5 linked regions of the Homo sapiens genome follow. The protein of the gene in region 1 purifies or fractionates together with the protein of each later gene. This does not show direct contact. Each region holds a gene or a part of one and is shown in the gene's direction. Other genes may lie near its edges. The genes, in order: ATPAF1, POGLUT1, DNAJC17, MACROD1 and SULF2.

Evidence for each region.
Region 2: the proteins of ATPAF1 (region 1) and POGLUT1 fractionate together in Homo sapiens (co-fractionation; one large-scale study listed by BioGRID). This does not show direct contact.
Region 3: the proteins of ATPAF1 (region 1) and DNAJC17 fractionate together in Homo sapiens (co-fractionation; one large-scale study listed by BioGRID). This does not show direct contact.
Region 4: the proteins of ATPAF1 (region 1) and MACROD1 purify together in Homo sapiens (affinity purification with mass spectrometry; one large-scale study listed by BioGRID and IntAct). This does not show direct contact.
Region 5: the proteins of ATPAF1 (region 1) and SULF2 purify together in Homo sapiens (co-immunoprecipitation; one large-scale study listed by IntAct). This does not show direct contact.

What each region holds. Positions count from the first base shown.
Region 1 is NC_000001.11:46,654,849-46,658,366, reverse strand, and holds part of ATPAF1 (ATP synthase mitochondrial F1 complex assembly factor 1), read left to right. Parts: intron 1-177; coding exon 178-240; intron 241-3,518. UniProt on the Homo sapiens protein: Has a complex stabilizing activity in the assembly of the mitochondrial F1-F0 complex.
Region 2 is NC_000003.12:119,485,951-119,489,468, forward strand, and holds part of POGLUT1 (protein O-glucosyltransferase 1 precursor), read left to right. Parts: intron 1-882; coding exon 883-982; intron 983-2,978; coding exon 2,979-3,037; intron 3,038-3,518. UniProt on the Homo sapiens protein: Dual specificity glycosyltransferase that catalyzes the transfer of glucose and xylose from UDP-glucose and UDP-xylose, respectively, to a serine residue found in the consensus sequence of C-X-S-X-P-C.
Region 3 is NC_000015.10:40,776,474-40,779,991, reverse strand, and holds part of DNAJC17 (dnaJ homolog subfamily C member 17), read left to right. Parts: coding exon 1-64; intron 65-388; coding exon 389-447; intron 448-681; coding exon 682-769; intron 770-3,364; coding exon 3,365-3,450; intron 3,451-3,518. UniProt on the Homo sapiens protein: May negatively affect PAX8-induced thyroglobulin/TG transcription.
Region 4 is NC_000011.10:64,152,604-64,156,121, reverse strand, and holds part of MACROD1 (ADP-ribose glycohydrolase MACROD1), read left to right. Parts: intron 1-3,518. UniProt on the Homo sapiens protein: Removes ADP-ribose from aspartate and glutamate residues in proteins bearing a single ADP-ribose moiety. Inactive towards proteins bearing poly-ADP-ribose.
Region 5 is NC_000020.11:47,670,464-47,673,981, reverse strand, and holds part of SULF2 (extracellular sulfatase Sulf-2 isoform a precursor), read left to right. Parts: intron 1-1,588; coding exon 1,589-1,784; intron 1,785-3,518. UniProt on the Homo sapiens protein: Exhibits arylsulfatase activity and highly specific endoglucosamine-6-sulfatase activity. It can remove sulfate from the C-6 position of glucosamine within specific subregions of intact heparin.

The sequences.
Region 1 (3,518 bases):
CTGTCTAGGCTTGGGGGCTCACTTTCTCTGAGCATGTGGGTTTTCTTATACTTGTTTTCTACTTTTGGAAATCTGTTTCATTGTCCTGACATGTTTGCCACAGGCTTAGAGATAGAGTTAAGCTGTTTTTTTTTTTTTTTAATTATGTGTTAATTGCTTTTTATTGTCTCTTTCAAGACTCTCAGTTCAATCTTTAACATTGAGATGGTAAAAGAAAAAACTGCAGAAGAAATAAAACAGGTAATGAATGGAAATGGGCTGGCCTACTCTATGAAAATGTGAATTCTGTGAACCAAATCTGAAAGTACATTTTCTGACACCTCTTTCTAGCCACAATGAAAGGTAATAATAAAAGGCAAAAGTGATGAATTACTTGAAGAACAATGTCATAAGAAAACTTGTCTTCTTTGTCACTCTTATATGTCTAATCAACTTGTATGTCTAGTTTCTTTTTCATTCCCATAATCCACATCTCGTGTAACCCTCATCAGTACTCTGTACCTGGATTACTGCACTACCTTTCCAAATAGGTTTCCCTTCTCCTTTTTTTTCCACTCCACCCATAATATTCTCATCAACTGAGTCCTCTGAAACTTCTCCTTTCATTATGGAGAAGTATAGTGTATTGGTTTAAAAACACAGACTCTAGAACCAAGCTGCCGGTTTTAAGTCCTAGCTCTGCCACTATCTATAGGACTTGGACAAGTTAATCAACTTGTCTGGGCTTTAGTTTCCCTATTTAAAGTGGAGCAAATAATAGCACTTACCTCATAGAGTTATTTGGATAATTAAATGAGTTAACATTTATTATCACTTAGAACAGTCCCTGGCATAGAGTAAGTGCTATATTTATGTTTTTTAAAAAATGGGAAAAAAATGTATTAGGAACCTGGTCACAAATGTTCAGTGACTTCCTGTATTCCTTTTCTGGGCATTCATAGCTCTCCATTATCACAGGACCTTCTTCAGGAAGCTTCCTGAACACTTTCCTTCAAAGCACTCATGAGCTATCCTGCCTGTTTGGTCATTTATATTTTTATACCTGTGATTCTTTTCTCTCTAATAAGCTATTTTTCTGGCATTCTTTATAGTTCCATGAATTATACATTAGGTAGATTGAGAGGATCAAAATAATAATAAAAGCAGCATACTCTGTATCAGGTACAATGCCTAATGCTTCATATGCATTATTTCATTAAATTCTCTTAACCACCCCGTGAAGTGGGTGCCATTATTCCCAGTTTACAGTTGAGGAAACTGTGACTTAAAGAGATTATGTAACTTAGTCAGTGGTAGAGCTGGGACTCAAACCCATGTCTATTTGACTCTGCATCATATTCCCACAACTGGAAGTTGTGCCAGTTGCCATGGGTTTCCTTTGTATGCTGTATCATTTATTTTAGCACACATTTAATGCATACCAATTAAATGTCAGACTCTGTGCCAGATACAGAGATAAATGAGAGAATCCTCATCCCCAAGGAGTTTTAGCCTCCGCAAAACGGATCAGATCAGCACAGGGTTCTTTCTATTAATAGAGGCATATGCAAAGTGTCAGGGAGAACTCTGGCTGTGCCTTTGGGAAGAAGTACCAAAGGAACATGGACACAAAACATGTCATTTAGGGGAAAAAGAAGCCAGGCCCAGGAGGCCTGATCATATGACAAGTATCATTGAGACCTATAGTTTTAGGTATAAATTTGTGTTTGTTGAAATGAGTAGCTAAATTCAACTATATAAGGAAACATATATCAGTCTCATGAATTTCAGTTTTGATTCATAAACTGTCTGCTAATATCATAAATTAAATAAAAATAATCAGAATATGCTGTCCTTAAAATGAGAAGACAATGTTTTGACATGCAAAAAAAGAAAAGGTAAAGCAACCTTATGCCACATTGAGAGTAGTTTCCATAGGTCCTAGGAGTTAATAGTCCTTTTGTGCTCTGTGTTGATTAGATGGATCACACTTTGATTAGTATCTTCAATTGGGGCCCCATATTTTAACAGAAATGTTGACAAAACAGACCAACTCTAAAGGAAGTTGACCCATTCTTCAACACTAGCTCACTCTGGTGTCACCTTGGTTATGATACCCTCCTCTACTTCTATGCCTTTGTTAGTGTTGTCATTCTCTGCTTCAAATGTGTCTCTTATCTCCTTCTCCTGCCCTACCTGTTATCTTCCCAGCCTCCTTATTTCCCTACTCTAACTCCTAATCATTCTTCAGGATACAGTTCCAAGTGTCCCTTCCTCTGGCACTCTTCCCTACCCTGGGTTAAGTGCCTCTTTTAGATTACATGTTTCTTATTATTTCACAATCATCTATCATTCAACCAGCATTTCTGAGTACTTTTTGGGTTGCAAGGCATTGGTGACAACACAGCAGATACCTGCCTACAGGGGGCTTGCAAACTAGTGAGGGAAATAGATCCATATGCAAATGATCTTATTATGAAGTAGCATATCCTAGGCATCTTAAGAGAGATATAAAATATGAAAGCAAGGGGGAGGAAATAAATAAAATAGAAAAGCAGCTCATAGGAAAACTTCTGACTGTAATATCAAGGGAAACTGCATGGAAGAAGAAGCATATAGGCTCAGCTTCAGAGTACAGGAAGAATTTGGGAGGTCAGAGGTAGGAGAGAGAGGCTTTCTAGTCAGAGCCAATAACATGTAAAAAGGCATGGGAAGGCAAAAAAAAGGTAGTAAAAAATAAGAACACAGAGCATCCATATGATATTAATGGTAAATAATGAAAAGACACAATATTGCATATATGCTACATCTATGTATACTATAAAAGACATGCTAGAAAGAAATAAAGTAACAGTGGTCTTTGTTAGGGTGGTAGGACTATGGGCATTTTTTCCTTTTCCCTGTTTTCTAATTTTCAAATTTTATTATATAATTTTTTTATTCCCCACCTTTTGGTATTTGCATCATGAAGGTCAACTGTAGCTTCCTTGTTCGTTAGTGTCAAGCAGAGGTAGGACTTCTGATTGGTATATACCATAGTCAGATCCAACAGACCTTATCTCTTCCACATGTAGAAGACTTTCTGGAAGCAGGATTTTAAGAGCTGCCTATAACATGCCAATAATATCTAATATGGTTTTGCTGTGTCCCCACCCAAATCTCATCTTGAATTGTAGTTCCCATAATCCCCACACATCATGGGAGGGACACAATGGGAGGTAATTGAATCATAGGGGCAGTTACCTCCATGCTGTTCCCATGATAATGAGTTCTCACGAGATCTGATGGTTTTATAGGGGGCTTTTCCCCCTTTTGCTCATTCTTCTTCCTGTCACCATGTGAAGAAGGATGTGTTTGCTTCCCCTTCCACCATGATTGTAAGATTCTTAACGCCTTCCCAGCCCTGTGGAACTGTGAGTCACTTAAACCTCTTTCCATTATAAATTACCCAGTCTCTGGATTAAGAAAATATGGCACATTTACACCATGGAATACTATGCAGCCATAAAAAAGCATGAGTTCATGTCCTTTGCAGGGAC
Region 2 (3,518 bases), on another chromosome or scaffold:
TCAATATATGATAAATATCTGTGGAGCAGATGAATAGAAAAGACCATGAAGGGAGCAGGGTTTTGTAGTTTTAGCAAGTGAGTCCTTGCCAGAGATTATACTCCCTCTTCACCCTCCTCTTCACTTCGGAGCTAGACTTTAGGAGGTAAATGGATTATCCAGCTACTATGTCCTGTTTCTTACCAACTTCTCTGATTCTTAAATCTTGAAGTCACAAATTAACTTGGGGACCATGTCTGGACTTCAAGAGTTTTAGGACTCCCTTGAAATTATGTGAGGATATGTGCATTTTTCTGGGAAGGAGAGAGGGTTGGTTCATAGTTCTTAACAGATTATCAAGGAATCCATGATGCCTCACATGTCAAGACCCTCTGCTACTTGGAACATCACTAGAAATTCTTCCACATACAGTCGTCAGGTTTTTAAGCCCTTTGGTTTTTGTGCATTTTTTTTAAATTAAATATTATACTGGGCTGTACAGAGCATACATAACAAAGGTCATGTAGCTGTTTTAGTGAGTCGTGACTACCTAGCCTCACAGTTATGAGCACCAGTGATTATAGAAGCCACATGAACTTTCCTAAAAGGGAAATCATTCCCTGGGATTTGACTATAGTGACCTGAACAACATACCCTTCAAGACCAAATGCAAGCAAAGAAGGGCCAAGTACCCCCCAACCCTAAAGGTACAGAGGGGACCAGCCCTGGATGACCTAGATGCTGCAGTACCCAGTATACCCCTCCTCCGCTGTCACGTCACCAGTGAATTGTCCACTTGTGCAGAGTCATTGCATTGGGTCCTAGTCCTGCTCACCTTTCAGGGATTGGGAACAGTTTTCTAATACAGGCCACACAGTTTTATGTCACGTGTTTCTTTTATAGGACAAGTCCAGAACGAGATCCTCTCATTCTTCTGTCTCGGAAAAACCCAAAACTTGTTGATGCAGAATACACCAAAAACCAGGCCTGGAAATCTATGAAAGTAATCACCAGTCATCTGACTAGAACTACAGCAGTGAACATTCTCACTCAAAGAACATTGCCACCTGGGTAGAATTTGAGATTAGGTTTCCTGTCAGTGGTGAGGTGAATGTAAAGAAAGTTCCATGAACCAGCATTAGCATATATGTAAATTCTCCTTTTTCAAACTTACATTGCTTTTCTGGCCATATTATGACTAGTATATTGCACTACTTTGAAGGTTTAAACCAGGGGTCACAAACTTTTTCCAGGAAGGGCCAAATAGTAAATGTTGTAGGTTTTGCAGGTCGTATGGTCTCTATTGCAGTTGCCAACAGACATGGGCAGTTTGTAAATGAATGAGCCTGGCAGTGTTTTTATTAAAACTTTATTACGGCCAGGCATGGTGGCTCATGCCTGTAATCCTAGCACTTTGGGAGGCGAGGCGGGTGGATCACTTGAGGTCAGGAGTTCAAGACCAGCCTGGCCAACATGGTGAAACCCCGTCTCTACTAAAAACACAAAAATTAGCCGGGCATGGTGGTATGTGCCGGTAGTCCCAGCTACTGGGGAGGCTGAGGCAGGAGAATCGCTTGAACCTGGGAGGCAGAGATTGCAGTGAGCCGAGATCACGCCATTGCACTCCAGCCTGGCGACAGAGCAAGACTCCGTCTCAAAAATAAGTAAATAAAAATAAAAATAATAAAAAATAAAAACTTTATGGGCACTGAAATTTGAATTTCATGTAATTTTAAGTTGTCATAAAATATTATTCTTTTGCCTTTTTTTTTAACCATTTGAAATGTAAAAATTTCTTAGTCCATGACAAAAACAAGCAGTGGGTCAAATTTGGCCTGTGGGTCGTAGTTTGCCAACCCCTGGTTTAAATCAATGGTCTCAACCCTGGCTGTGCAATACAACCAGAGAGCTTAAGAAAATGAATCAAATGAGTCAGAATCTCTGGGAATGGTGTCCAGGAATCTTCATTTGTTTAAAACTTTTCAAGTGATTCTAAGGTGAAGCCAGAAATGGGACCGTTGGTTTACAGTCCACTCTCTCCTCTTAACTCTATGGCTTTTTGCCTTAATCAAAGAAATTAAAGCCCTAAACTTCCTTTATATGAAATTTCCATATACCATATGAGGATGCTATGAGGAAAAGCTTTAGACTTCTTGGGAGAAAACTAAGTAAATCTGAGGTGCATGTATTATTTCATACAGTTTTAATCAGGAGCAAGTGAGCTTAAGAAACTTTGTTGAATAATAAAAATATGAAAAAATGTGTTCATTTAGAACAAAAGTTGTTAGCATCTACTGTGGGAGGCTGCAGAAGCAAACAAAACTTGTCCCCTCATCAAGGAGTTTACCATCTGCTAAGGTGGATGGAATGTACCTGGGGATGTCAAACTCAGATGTCCCCAGGGGCCAGCAGGTGATGTCAAGAGGTGAGCAAGAGAGAATACTAACAGTTCCAAATGTTAATAAGAGCCCAGTTTGCCAGATCTTCCTTTTTATTCTCCAAGAAAGACTGGAAATCTGGATTTTTGCAAGAAATATCCTACCACCTGTAAATGTTGGCAATGATTTGATTTAAAAAAAAAAATACTTTGCATGCCCAACAAAATTTGAGCATGGGCTATATACACCCCTAAGGCCATCAGCCAGCACTTGGGACCTTCTCTGCATACATTATTTACACAGAGTGAAGTGTGCTGCAGGCTGTGACATCTGAATTCAAAGGAGGGCAACATGGCTTTAGGTGTGCTTAAACTTTAAAATCAGACGGGCCCTGGTTAAAACTCTGTCTTCTATTTAGAGCCACACTGACCTTGAGCAAATCTCAACTTCCAAAGCCTTGGCTTCTGCATTTATATAATGGGAATAATAATGTCTCCTGAGTATATTGATTATGAAGCTTAAATGAGGTAATGTTGATGAAATGTTTAACAATGCTTGCTGCACAGTGATCACAATAAATGCTGTTGCTGTTAATACTAATAACTTCCTTTCCACTTAAAGGATACCTTAGGAAAGCCAGCTGCTAAGGATGTCCATCTTGTGGATCACTGCAAATACAAGTAAGATTTGCAGGACTCCTCACTTTCTTGGTTTCCATACTGCTTTTGAAATAGCTTCACTTTGGGTGAGAACTTTAATATAAAGGCCCAGCTGGAGTAAATGAAAGTTGCATTAATTCATTTCACTGGCTTTTCCTCAGGGCCTAAATGCACTGACCTGAGTTCTGTGGCGACTGTAGAGAAGAATGGAACATGGTTCCTGCTTCCAAACAGCTGCATGCTAGCTAGTAATCACAGTAATGGAATTACCTCTCCATATGCCCCACCCACCCAATCATTGAAGTTAGAATAAATATTTCTCAGTTAATAAATATTAGAATTATTATCCTGGTGTGCTGGCATGCTCCTGTAGTCTTAGCTACTCGGGAGGCTGAGGTAGGAGGATCCTTTGAGCCCAAGAGTTCAAGACCAGCCTGGGCTACATAGTGAGACCCTGTCTCTAAGAGAAATAAAATAAAATTCTGGGACTAAGAATTAGATG
Region 3 (3,518 bases), on another chromosome or scaffold:
AAGGCGTATAGGCAGAAGGCCCTCTCCTGCCACCCAGACAAAAATCCAGATAATCCCAGAGCAGGTGAGACTCTTCTCAGGGCGTGGGGAGAAAGAAACCCACTCACCCGGGCATTGTGTTTCCCGATGTAAGCTCTGCATGTGAGTGCTGTGGGGTGTAAGCACACATTGCCTGGCTCCAGGCAATGGGTCCCAGGGCTTCCCTCCTGTGAGGGGTGTCTGGTCAGTTGCTGATATGCTCACCCCTCCTTGTTGGTCTGTCATCTGCTGATGTCGGCTTGTCTGCCATCCTGTGACTTCTTTGAAGATTTTTTTTTTTTTTGAGGGAGCACACCATTACGAAGTCTTAACTTTATTTTTCTTCTGTCTTTTTGATCCTTATGTTTAGCTGAACTCTTCCACCAGCTTTCTCAGGCCTTGGAGGTGCTGACCGATGCTGCAGCCAGGGTAAGCACAGCCTCCTTCATCGGAATCGTCCCCCATGGTTAGAGACCACTGCTGCCTCTCAACCTCGGTCCTCTGCCCTTTGCCATGTGGCACAGTCCTTGCTGTCTAAGCCCAGGAGACCCAGTCACCAGGCTGCCACTCTGATGGCTCGTGGGCTAGGGGCCAGGCAGATTGCCGGGGCTCTGTCTTTACTCTCTCACTGACCCTCTGCCCTGTGCCCCTTTCTCCTGCCAGGCTGCATATGACAAGGTCAGGAAAGCCAAGAAGCAAGCAGCAGAGAGGACCCAGAAACTTGATGAGAAAAGGAAGAAAGTGAAGCTTGGTAGGTGCCATCATAGTGCTCGGTGGCCTGTGGTTTCCTGTGGTCATTTTCATTCATCTCCCTCACCTGAAGCTTCACTTCCAGCAACTCATCTCAAAGCCTTTTGGCTCAGGCTCTGGGCAAAACGCTGTTCTTAGAGGTTGGTTCCTAAAGACACTCTTAGGAATAATAACAATAATAAGGTTTAATATTAGCTAAGCATTGTGACAAATGCCTTATTGTCCCTTTAATTATCATAACTATACAAGGAAGTGTGGGTACTAAACCTTTTTTAAGAACATGGTTTTTTGAGACAGGGTCTCACCCTGTCACCTAGGCTGGAGCGCAGTGGCATGATCTCGGCTCACTGCAACCCCCACCCTCTGGGTTCAGGCGATTCTTGTGCCTCAGCCTCACGATAGTGGGACTACAGGCATGCACCACTACGCCCGGCTAATTTTGTTCCGTTTTTTTAGAGATGGAGTTTCACCATGTTGGCCAGGCTGGTCTTAAACTCCTGGCCTCAAGCTATCCACCTCAGTCTCCCAAAGTGCTGGTATTACAGCTGGTGAGCTGCCGCACCTGGCCTCTGAAGCCATTTTTTATAGGCAAAGGAGCTAAGGCACCAAAAGTTTAAGAGCTTGCTGGAGGTGGGATTTAAACTTATCCAGTGTGAGTAAAATTGGTGCTTGTGGCCGGGCGCGGTGGCTCACGCCTGTAATCCCAGCACTTTGGGAGGCCGAGGCGGGTGGATCACGACGTCAGGAGTTCGAGACCAGCCTGGCCAAGATGGTGAAACCCCTTCTCTACTAAAAATACAAAAATTAGCTGGGTGTGGTGGCGGGTGCCTGTAATCCCAACTACTCGAGAAGTTGAGGCAGAGAATTGCTTGAACCCGGGAGGCAGAGGTTGCAGTGAGCTGAGATCACGCTGCTGTGCTCTAGCCTGGGTGACAGAGCAAAACTCCATCTCAAAAAACAAAACAAAACAAAAAAATTGGTGCTTGTATTCACCATTTCTGGCTGAGTCTTCTTCTTCTTTTTTTTTTTTTTAAAGAAAGACGGGGTTTTGTACTGTCACCCAGGCTAGGGTGGCACCATCATGGCTCACTGCAGCCTCAAACTCCTGGGCTCAAGCAGTCCTTCTGCCTTGGCCTCCTGAGTAGCTGGGACTACAGGTGCGAGCCGCTGTGCCCGGCTGGGTCTTTTAATTTGTTCTAACCCCAATTCCTACCCAGACTTTTCACTTTGAGAAGCTCCCTCAGAAGGATTCAAAGAGGTCCAGGCTTTCTCTTCTCTAATAGCTTTATTGAGGTATTCTTTGTATATCACAACATCAACCCATTTCAAGTGTACACTTCAATGATTTTTCGTAAATTTACTAAATGATGCAACTCTGACTATAAATCAGATTTGGAACATTTTCATCAACCCAATAAGATTGCTGCAAGCATTTTTTTTTTCTCACTTAAAAAAAAGTCACTGGTTATAGCAGCATGGTCCAAGCACTCTTTTTTTTTTTTTCTTAAACGGAGTTTCGCTCTTGTTGCCCAGGCTGGAGTGCAGTGGCACGATCTCGGCTCACTTCAACCTCTGCCTCCTGGGTTCAAGCGATTCTCCTGCCTCAGCCTCCCGAGTAGCTGGGACTAAGTTGCGCACCACCACACCCGGCTAATTTTTGTATTTTTAGTAGAGACGGAGTTTTGCCACATTGGCCAGGCTGGTCTCGAACTCCTGACCTCAGGTGATCCACCCCTCTTGGCCTCCCAAAGTGCTGGGATTACAGGCGTGAGCCACCGCGCCTGGCCCAGTCCAAGCATTCTTTACTCAAGTTTCTCCTTTTCCTCTTGCTCTTCAACATCCATATATTTTAATATGTGCATATAGCATCCCAATATCTATTTCTATATTAAAAGAAAAGCAAGTGCCAGGAGACCCCATCTCAAAAAAAAAAAAAAAAAAAGAGAGAGAGAGAAAAGGAGAGTCTAAGTAAGTAAAGTGCACAAACTTCTCTGGACTAAGAGAAGGGTTTCTCACAGCAGCTGGCCTGGCACATGGTTGCAAGCAGGTTTCTCTTGGAAGGTAACGCCCTCACACAATCCAGGACCCGGGGTGATGCCCTAACACTCTGCCCATCCCTGTAGCCAGGTCCACAGTGAGGCTTGGTAAATGTGAGTTGAGGTGGGAGGTAAAGGAGACAGTGAGAACCTGAGCTCAGTGTGTGAAAAGAATCAAAGCCAAAGCAAGTCAAGCTGTGGTGCCAAACCACAGGAATCGAGCCCAGCAGCTCCGCCCATTGGCACCCCTGACACATGGCCCTGGGCTGCTGACATAAGCACCACCCACACCCTGTTCACTAGAGAGAACCAGCTTGGTCAGTGTGAGCTGTTTTTAACTCTTCCAGACCCCTGGCCACTCTGCTAGACCCCATACTTCTGTGCTGTGATTTTTCTCAATGGAAATTGACTCGGGGGCGTGGGCATGGAGGGAGGGGGCAGAGTTACTGTATGATCTCGTCGTGATTGAGACTTTGGGGAGGCAGCCAGAGCTGGGGTGGGCCGAGGCCACATGGAAACTGAACAGACCAGCAGTCTGGTCATTCAACCCTTGTGTCTAGACCTGGAGGCCCGGGAGCGGCAGGCCCAGGCCCAGGAGAGTGAGGAGGAAGAGGAGAGCCGGAGCACCAGGACACTAGAGCAAGAGGTGAGCACTCAGGCACACTGGCCAGAAGGCCACCTGCAGGAGGAGGAGGTGGGGGAGGATGGACCTGG
Region 4 (3,518 bases), on another chromosome or scaffold:
TTTTTTTTTTTTTGAGATGGAGTTTTGCTCTTGTTGCCCAGGCTGGAGTGCAATGGTGTGATCTCAGCTCACCGCAACCTCCGCCTCCCAGGTTCAAGCGATTCTCCTGCCTCAGCCTCCCGAGTAGCTGGGATTACAGGCATGTACCACCACACCCGGCTAATTTTGTATTTTTAGTAGAGATGGGGTTTCACCATGTTGGCCAGGCTGATCTCAAACTCCTGATGTCAGGTGATCCACCTGTCTCGGCCTCCCAAAATGCTGGGATTACAGGTGTGAGCCACCATGCCCGGCCGCTCAGCTGATTTTTTGTATTTTTTGGTAGAGATGGGGTTGCTCCATATTGTCCAGGCTGGTCTCGAACTCCTGGGCTCAGGTGATTGGCTTGCCTTGGTCTCCCCAAGTGCTGGGGACCCAAATAATTAGAAAAGTTCCTCCGGCTGCTGTGTCCCCAAGTTGGAAAAAAAAGTTCTCCACAATTTTGTCCTGTTTGCTTTGTTCTCTTTGGGCATTATTTAGCCGCCAGGAAGGAGTGAGTGTGTCTGGCGTGTAGACCGCACTTTGCAGCACACAGCCACCTTCTCCTTTGACCCTCCCAGCAAGCCTGGGTGTTAGCAAGGGAAGGCCTGCCTTGTCCCTATTCCAGAGATGGGAAAACCCAAGGCTTCAAACTGAGCATGGTGTTGGGAGGTCACGAACCCAAACCTGGCGGGACCTATAACAGAAGAAAAGGCGCAGCCTGGGTCTAGGCCGGCTGCCACCAGCATCTGTCCGTCCTCAGACAGGGAGGCAGACCTGGAGAGACCGACTGGCCTCACTTTCTCCACCCAAATGCTCTCTCTCTTTTTTTTCTTTTTTAATTAGGGGATCATCTCTGGCTCCCTCTTACCTCTGGGCTTTTGCACATACTGTTCCCTCTGCCTAGAAGACTCTGTACTTAGCAAACTCGCCCTCAACCTTTGGTCTTGGCTCATTTATTCCTCAGCGTGCCCCTCAGGCACCCTCAGGTGCCCACACACCGTGCCAGGTGGTGGGAATCTGATGGCAAACACAGCAGATCCCCTATGGAACCTACAGGTCAAGATGGCCAAGATCAAGAAAGGGGGCCGGCGCCGTGGCTCACGCCTGTAATTCCAGCACTTCGGGAGGCTGACATGGGTGGATTGCTTGAGGTCAGGAGTTCAAGTCCAGCCTGGCCAACATGGTGAAACCCCATCTCTATTAAAATACAAAAATTAGTTGGGTGTGCTGGCACACGCGTGTAATCCCAGCTACTAGGGAGGCTGAGGCAGGAGAATTGCTTGAATCCAGGAGTGCAGGTTGCAGTGAGCCAAGATCGTGCCACTGCACTCCAGCCTGGGCGACAGAGTGAGACTCCGTCTCAAAAAAAAATAAAAGAATAAGTGTAAACAAAAGCAAACTATCCCATATCCTGCAGAGCACAGCAGGTACAAAGGGCCTGGGGCAGGAAGCAGCCTGGCTGTTTGGGGAACTGGTGTAGTGGGGGAGGCAGCATTGGGAGTGAGGTGGGAGAGAGGCCAGAGGACCGGCGTTTGAATGCAGTTTTGAACAGAGGAGGGATGGCACCTGATTTATGTTCCCAGGATCCATGGCTGCCGGTCAAGGAACAGATGGGGATGAGATGCACACGGAGATCAGCTGGGAGTTGGGAGCGTCTGTGGGATCTAGGGAGCCATGAGGAAGGCTCAGTCCTGGAGGGTGAGAGGAAGGCTTGGTTTCTAGGGTGTCACGGGGATCAATCCAAAAGAGGATGGAAAGGGAGGGACCCCTGGTGCAGGGTCTCGAGTAAAAAAGAGGGAAGAATGGAGCAACAAAAAAATGACGTTTTGGGGGAAAGAGTCAAACGTTCTGTTTTGCATGCCTGGGCTTTGGGGAATGAGAGCAGGCAGGCACTGTGGGGGTCAGAGGCTCAGAAGAGAGTGGAGGGACAGCCCCGGAGGTTGCTTGCTTAAAGAGCGTTTTGAATCTGTGCAACTGATTAGAAGACCTAGGGAGGAAAGCAGCAAGGACACTTCCTGTCCACAGGGAAGGCAGGAGGGGCCGCTGCATGGGGTGTGGTGACCTTGACCTTGTTGGAAGGAGGGACCAGACTGGGTGGACTGAAGGGAGCATGGGAGGGAAGAAGTGGAGACAGCAGAGGAGGGGGCAGCTGCAGGGGCGTGGAATGCGGGCGTTGAGGGAGGGGACGGGATTATTTGAGGGCAGGCAGGACAGCCTGGTGGAGGGGGACCTGCAGCAGTGAGTCCTCTGGGAGGTGGGCTTGGCAGGTGGCAGCGCTGGTACTGAATGCAGGACCTACTCGTGCCCAAACATGTTTATGGAAGAGGGGGCAGAAGTGGCTGCCAGGAAAGGTGGCTCTGGCTTGAGCAGCAGTGGGGGCTGACCAGGGGTGGGCCTAGCCTTTTGTGATGACCCCACCTTTGCATCCAGCAGGGACTCTGGACTGGGCCCCTTGCATGAGTTCTGTCATCTAATGCTCTCAGCATCCTTGGGTTGTTATCACCCCTGCCAGCAGTGGTTAGATGAGGAGATGGAGGCCTGGATGATGAAGTGACTCTGGCCGGGAAAACACCCTGCTGTGTGAGGGTGGCCTCCCAACCTCCCTGAACATTTGTGGAGGGACCTACCTGTCCCCCTCACTGCCATGTGCATAGAAGCTTCCAGGCTGCAGTCCTTCCTTTCTCACCACCTCCTCTAATTGCTCTCCCGCCTCTACATATTTTTTGATGCTTTTTGAGTTTCTCAATTGTAGCCTTTGCTGTTTGCCGTGGGGGCTGCCCCATCCCGGGAGCCTGTGGTCCAGGGTGCCAGGCTGGGCTGAGCGCCTGGGTGTGCAGGCGGCCTCGGGCCAGCAGGGGGAGCCCGTGAGCTGCTAGCCTGGCCTGGCGCGGTCGGGGCGGGCCCTTCTGAGACGGGTTCCAGGTTTCTGTGCCTGGTGCCACCCCCAAGGGAAGGCGGAGCCCATGGGACAGTGCTCAGGCAAGGGGAGCCGGCCAGGGTGGACCCCGAGTCTGTGAGCGGGTGGGGGGTGCCTGGCTCCTCACTCAAGTCCCTGCTGTGTGAGGGTGGCCTCCCAACCTCCCTGAGCCCCGGTTTCCTCATCTGTAAAACGAGAACGATTCCAACCCCATTGGTCATGCTGGGAGCCCTCAGCCGCTGCCGGGGGGGATGTTGGGGACAGGTGCCAGGTCCACTTGGTCCTGCAGCTCCTGGAGGAGGACAGCTGTCCCGCTGCCTGCATGCAGTGACAGTGAGGGCAGAACTGACTGGCGGTGGGACTGATGGATAATGTCGCTGGCTGAGTGCTGCCAACCGGCTTGGCCTTAGTGTGTGGGAGGAAGCTCGGAGCTGTTCTGCAGGGGACGTCTTCACCCCCGTTCTAATCAGGGAGAAACGGGGGACCCAGAGAGATGTGGACGCTGCTGGAAAGTGGCAGAGCTGAATTCATCACAACCCAGGTCTGCGATGCCTGAGCCAGTCCCTCAGCCTCCCCAGAC
Region 5 (3,518 bases), on another chromosome or scaffold:
GTTGGGTTGGAGCGGGGAGCAGGCAGTGGGGAAGGAGAATTCCAGGCAGAGAGAGCTAAGTGGACAGGAGGCTGCTCGCCAGCGCACACAGCTCAGGGCTTCACGCAGAACTCAGAGCCCTGGCTTTTCTTGAAAAATCAGACCTGGGCTTCTGGGCCTGTGCTCCCCTCTGGCGACAGTCAGATGGGTATAGCCGGTCACAGTGCCCACTTTAGCCTCCCCAGGTCCCCCAGGCGCTTCTGGGCTGGCCTCATTCAGGGCCATGCCTGCTGGCCCATCAGTCTACTTCTGCACTAAGGAATCCAGGTTGCTGGAAGGGCCTGCATGCATTGAAGGGGATGGGAGGGTGGCAGGGCGCTGTGAATGCAATTAGATTCAGCCTCCAGGTGAGAACAGATGGGCGGGACAGGGGCAAGATGAGCAGGTGAAAGGCACCAGGGCCTTCAACGGCAGCGGGCGGGGGCAGACGGTGCAGCAGAGGGTTGGGGGGGATGGTGGCACCAGACTCCACACTTTTCCTTACAGCTCTTGCACCTCCCAGTTGTGTGACCCAGGACACATCTCTCTACCTCCGTGTGCCTCATCTTGAATCGGCACAGTAATGACAGCACCTGCCTCGTAGGGTAGCGTGAGGTGTAGTAAGCAAGTTAATATATTAACACACAGTGCTTGGCACATGCTAAGTGCTGGAGAGACACAGGGAACAGATCTGACCCATGGCCTGGAAAGGTCACTTTGGCACAGAATAGGCCCTAAAGAGTCACTGGGTCAATGGGCTGGAGCAGCTGTGGACAGAAGGGAAGAGAATCCAGTTTACAGGTGGTTGCAGAATCCCGTGAGGGGATCCAGGAGGCTGGAACTGGGGAAGAGCAGAAGGATCAACACGAGAGATTTGGACAGTGATTCTATCTACATTCAGCGTCTGACCACAGGCCTGGAGTTGAGTGCACACGTGGAGCCTCTGCACACACTGCACTGATTGAGTCTGGGAAGGTGGTCAGGGGAGACCTCCTTGCGCTGGAGCAGACGGGAAGGAAGAGAAGCCTCCAGCAGCAGGAAGGGCTGGAGAAAAGGCATTCTAGGCAGAAGGAACAGTGAGCGCCAAGTCCCTGGGGCAGCAGCCCACAGGGGATACTGGAGAGAGGGCTGAGGGAGAGGAGGACCGATGGGTAGGCCAGGGCCAGATTGCAGAGGATGTTCAAAGACTAGTATCAGGAGCTTGGGTCTTGTCTTAAAGACAGTGGGAGCCATTGAAGGGTTTTAAGTAGGAGAGTAATATGATCCAACTTGCCCTTTAAAAAGATTCCTCTAGCTGCCATGTGGGTGGATTTTAGGAGCAGACAGAAGCAGGTAACCGTGAGAGTGGTGGCTGTCGGAGGCATCTCGCTGGGGGATGATGGTAGCTCTGCCCAAGGTTCAAGCAGTGGCAGTGGAGAGAAGCGGCATTGGAGATAGCAGAGGTGGGGCTCGGTAACAGCTGGATGCAAGCAGGGAGAGGGATGTCTCCAGGGTGGATGGGGGTGGCAGGGGAGAGGCGGGTTTAGGGGAGCAGATGAGCAGCTGGCCGAGGCCCTGGCATGTCTTTCAGAAGTGGCAGTGTGTGGAGGACGCCACGGGGAAGCTGAAGCTGCATAAGTGCAAGGGCCCCATGCGGCTGGGCGGCAGCAGAGCCCTCTCCAACCTCGTGCCCAAGTACTACGGGCAGGGCAGCGAGGCCTGCACCTGTGACAGCGGGGACTACAAGCTCAGCCTGGCCGGACGCCGGAAAAAACTCTTCAAGAAGAGTAAGTGTCACAACCTGGCTGAGTGGGACAGGAGGAGAGAGACCATGCCTGGGGGGCCCCATTCATTCACTCCGACAGTTCCACAGAGACTGTCACTTTGCCAGGTGGTGATCTAGGGGCTGGGGACACAGCCACATCTCCTCACGAGCCACCCATTCTAGTGGGGAGCAGTAGTAATAAACAGATAAGGCCAGGCGCAATGGCTCACGCCTGTAATCCCAGTACTTTGGGAGTCCGAGGCAGGCAGATCACCTGAGGTCAGGAGCTCCAGACCAGCCTGGCCAACATGGTAAAACCCCGTCTAAAAATACAACAATTAGCCAGATGTGGTGGCTCACGCTTGTAATCCCAGCTACTTGGGAGGCTGAGGCATGAGAATCGCTTGAACCCAGGAGGCAGAGGCTGCAGTGACCCGAGATTGTGCCACTGCACTCCAGCCTGGGCAACAGAGCGAGATCCATCTCAAAAAAAAGGAAGAAACACACATACAAGGTTCTGTATTGATTGGCTGGTGAAAATGCTAGGACCAGAGGTTCACAGGAACCCAGCTCTGTGCTTCCCCTAGGAGCCATGTTTCAGCGTTCAATTAGTCAGTGTTTGTGGTGAGTTTATAGAACTACCCTGGGCTGGGCGCGGTGGCTCACACCTGTAATCCCAGCACTTTGAGAGGCCGAGGTGGACAGATCACTTGAGGTCAGGAGTTCAAGACCAGCCTGGCCAACATGGTGAAACCCCATCTCTACTAAAAATACAAAAAATTAGTTGGGCGTGTGGTGTGGCAGCAGAGTCGCTTGAACCCGGGAGCAGAGGTTGCAGATAGCTGAGATCACGCCATTGTGCTCCAGCCTGGGCGACAGAGTGAGACTCGGTCTCAAAAAAAATAAAAAATAAACTACCCTGAAGAACAAAAATAGACTATAGTTGAGTGGGGAAAAGCCTCACTCAGCTGAAGAAGTGTCTACACCTTCACACCTCATTCTCGGCAAGGGCCGAGGAGAGGACAGTCAGACAGAAGCCAGGGAGCAGGCGAAGTGGAGAGAGGGACTCTTCTAGACCCAGCCAGAAGGCTCAGCCGCCACCCTGGGCCATCGCTTCACCATTCTGAGGCTCAGCTCCCACCATCAAACAGGAAGAATGGTCCCTGCATGACTTTAAAACAAGAATGAGCCTGTGCCCTGAAAATGTGTGGAGGCGTCGGGGTCCGCCGGCTAGAAGTGTGCCCTCCAAGGCTGGGCAGCTTCCCACGTAGCCCATTTCTCTGGCCTAAGGACAGCCAAAGCCTAATGAGAGATTTTAGGTGTTGTTTTTAAAAAAAATTATGGTGAAATTCCCATAAAATTTATCATCTTAACCATTTTTAAGTATCCAGTAGTGTCAACTATATTCCCACTAGTACGCAACCTATCTGCTAAATGAACTCTTCATCTTGCAAAACTACAACTGTCCCCATTCAACGTTATCTCCCCATTCTCCCACCCCGCTCCCACCCCCACCCCGTTCTCCCACCCCGCTCTCCCACCCTGCTGTCACCCCATTCTCCCACCCGTTCTCAGCAACCACTCTTCTTCTCTATGAGCTTGACTGCTTTAGGGGCCTCATGTAAGTGGAATTGTACAGTATTTGTCCTTCTGTGGCTGGCTTATTTCTCTTCGCATAATGTTCTCCGGGTTCATCCACATGGTAGCCTGTGTTGGAATCTCCTTCCTGATCGGGCACAGTGGCTCACGCCTGTAA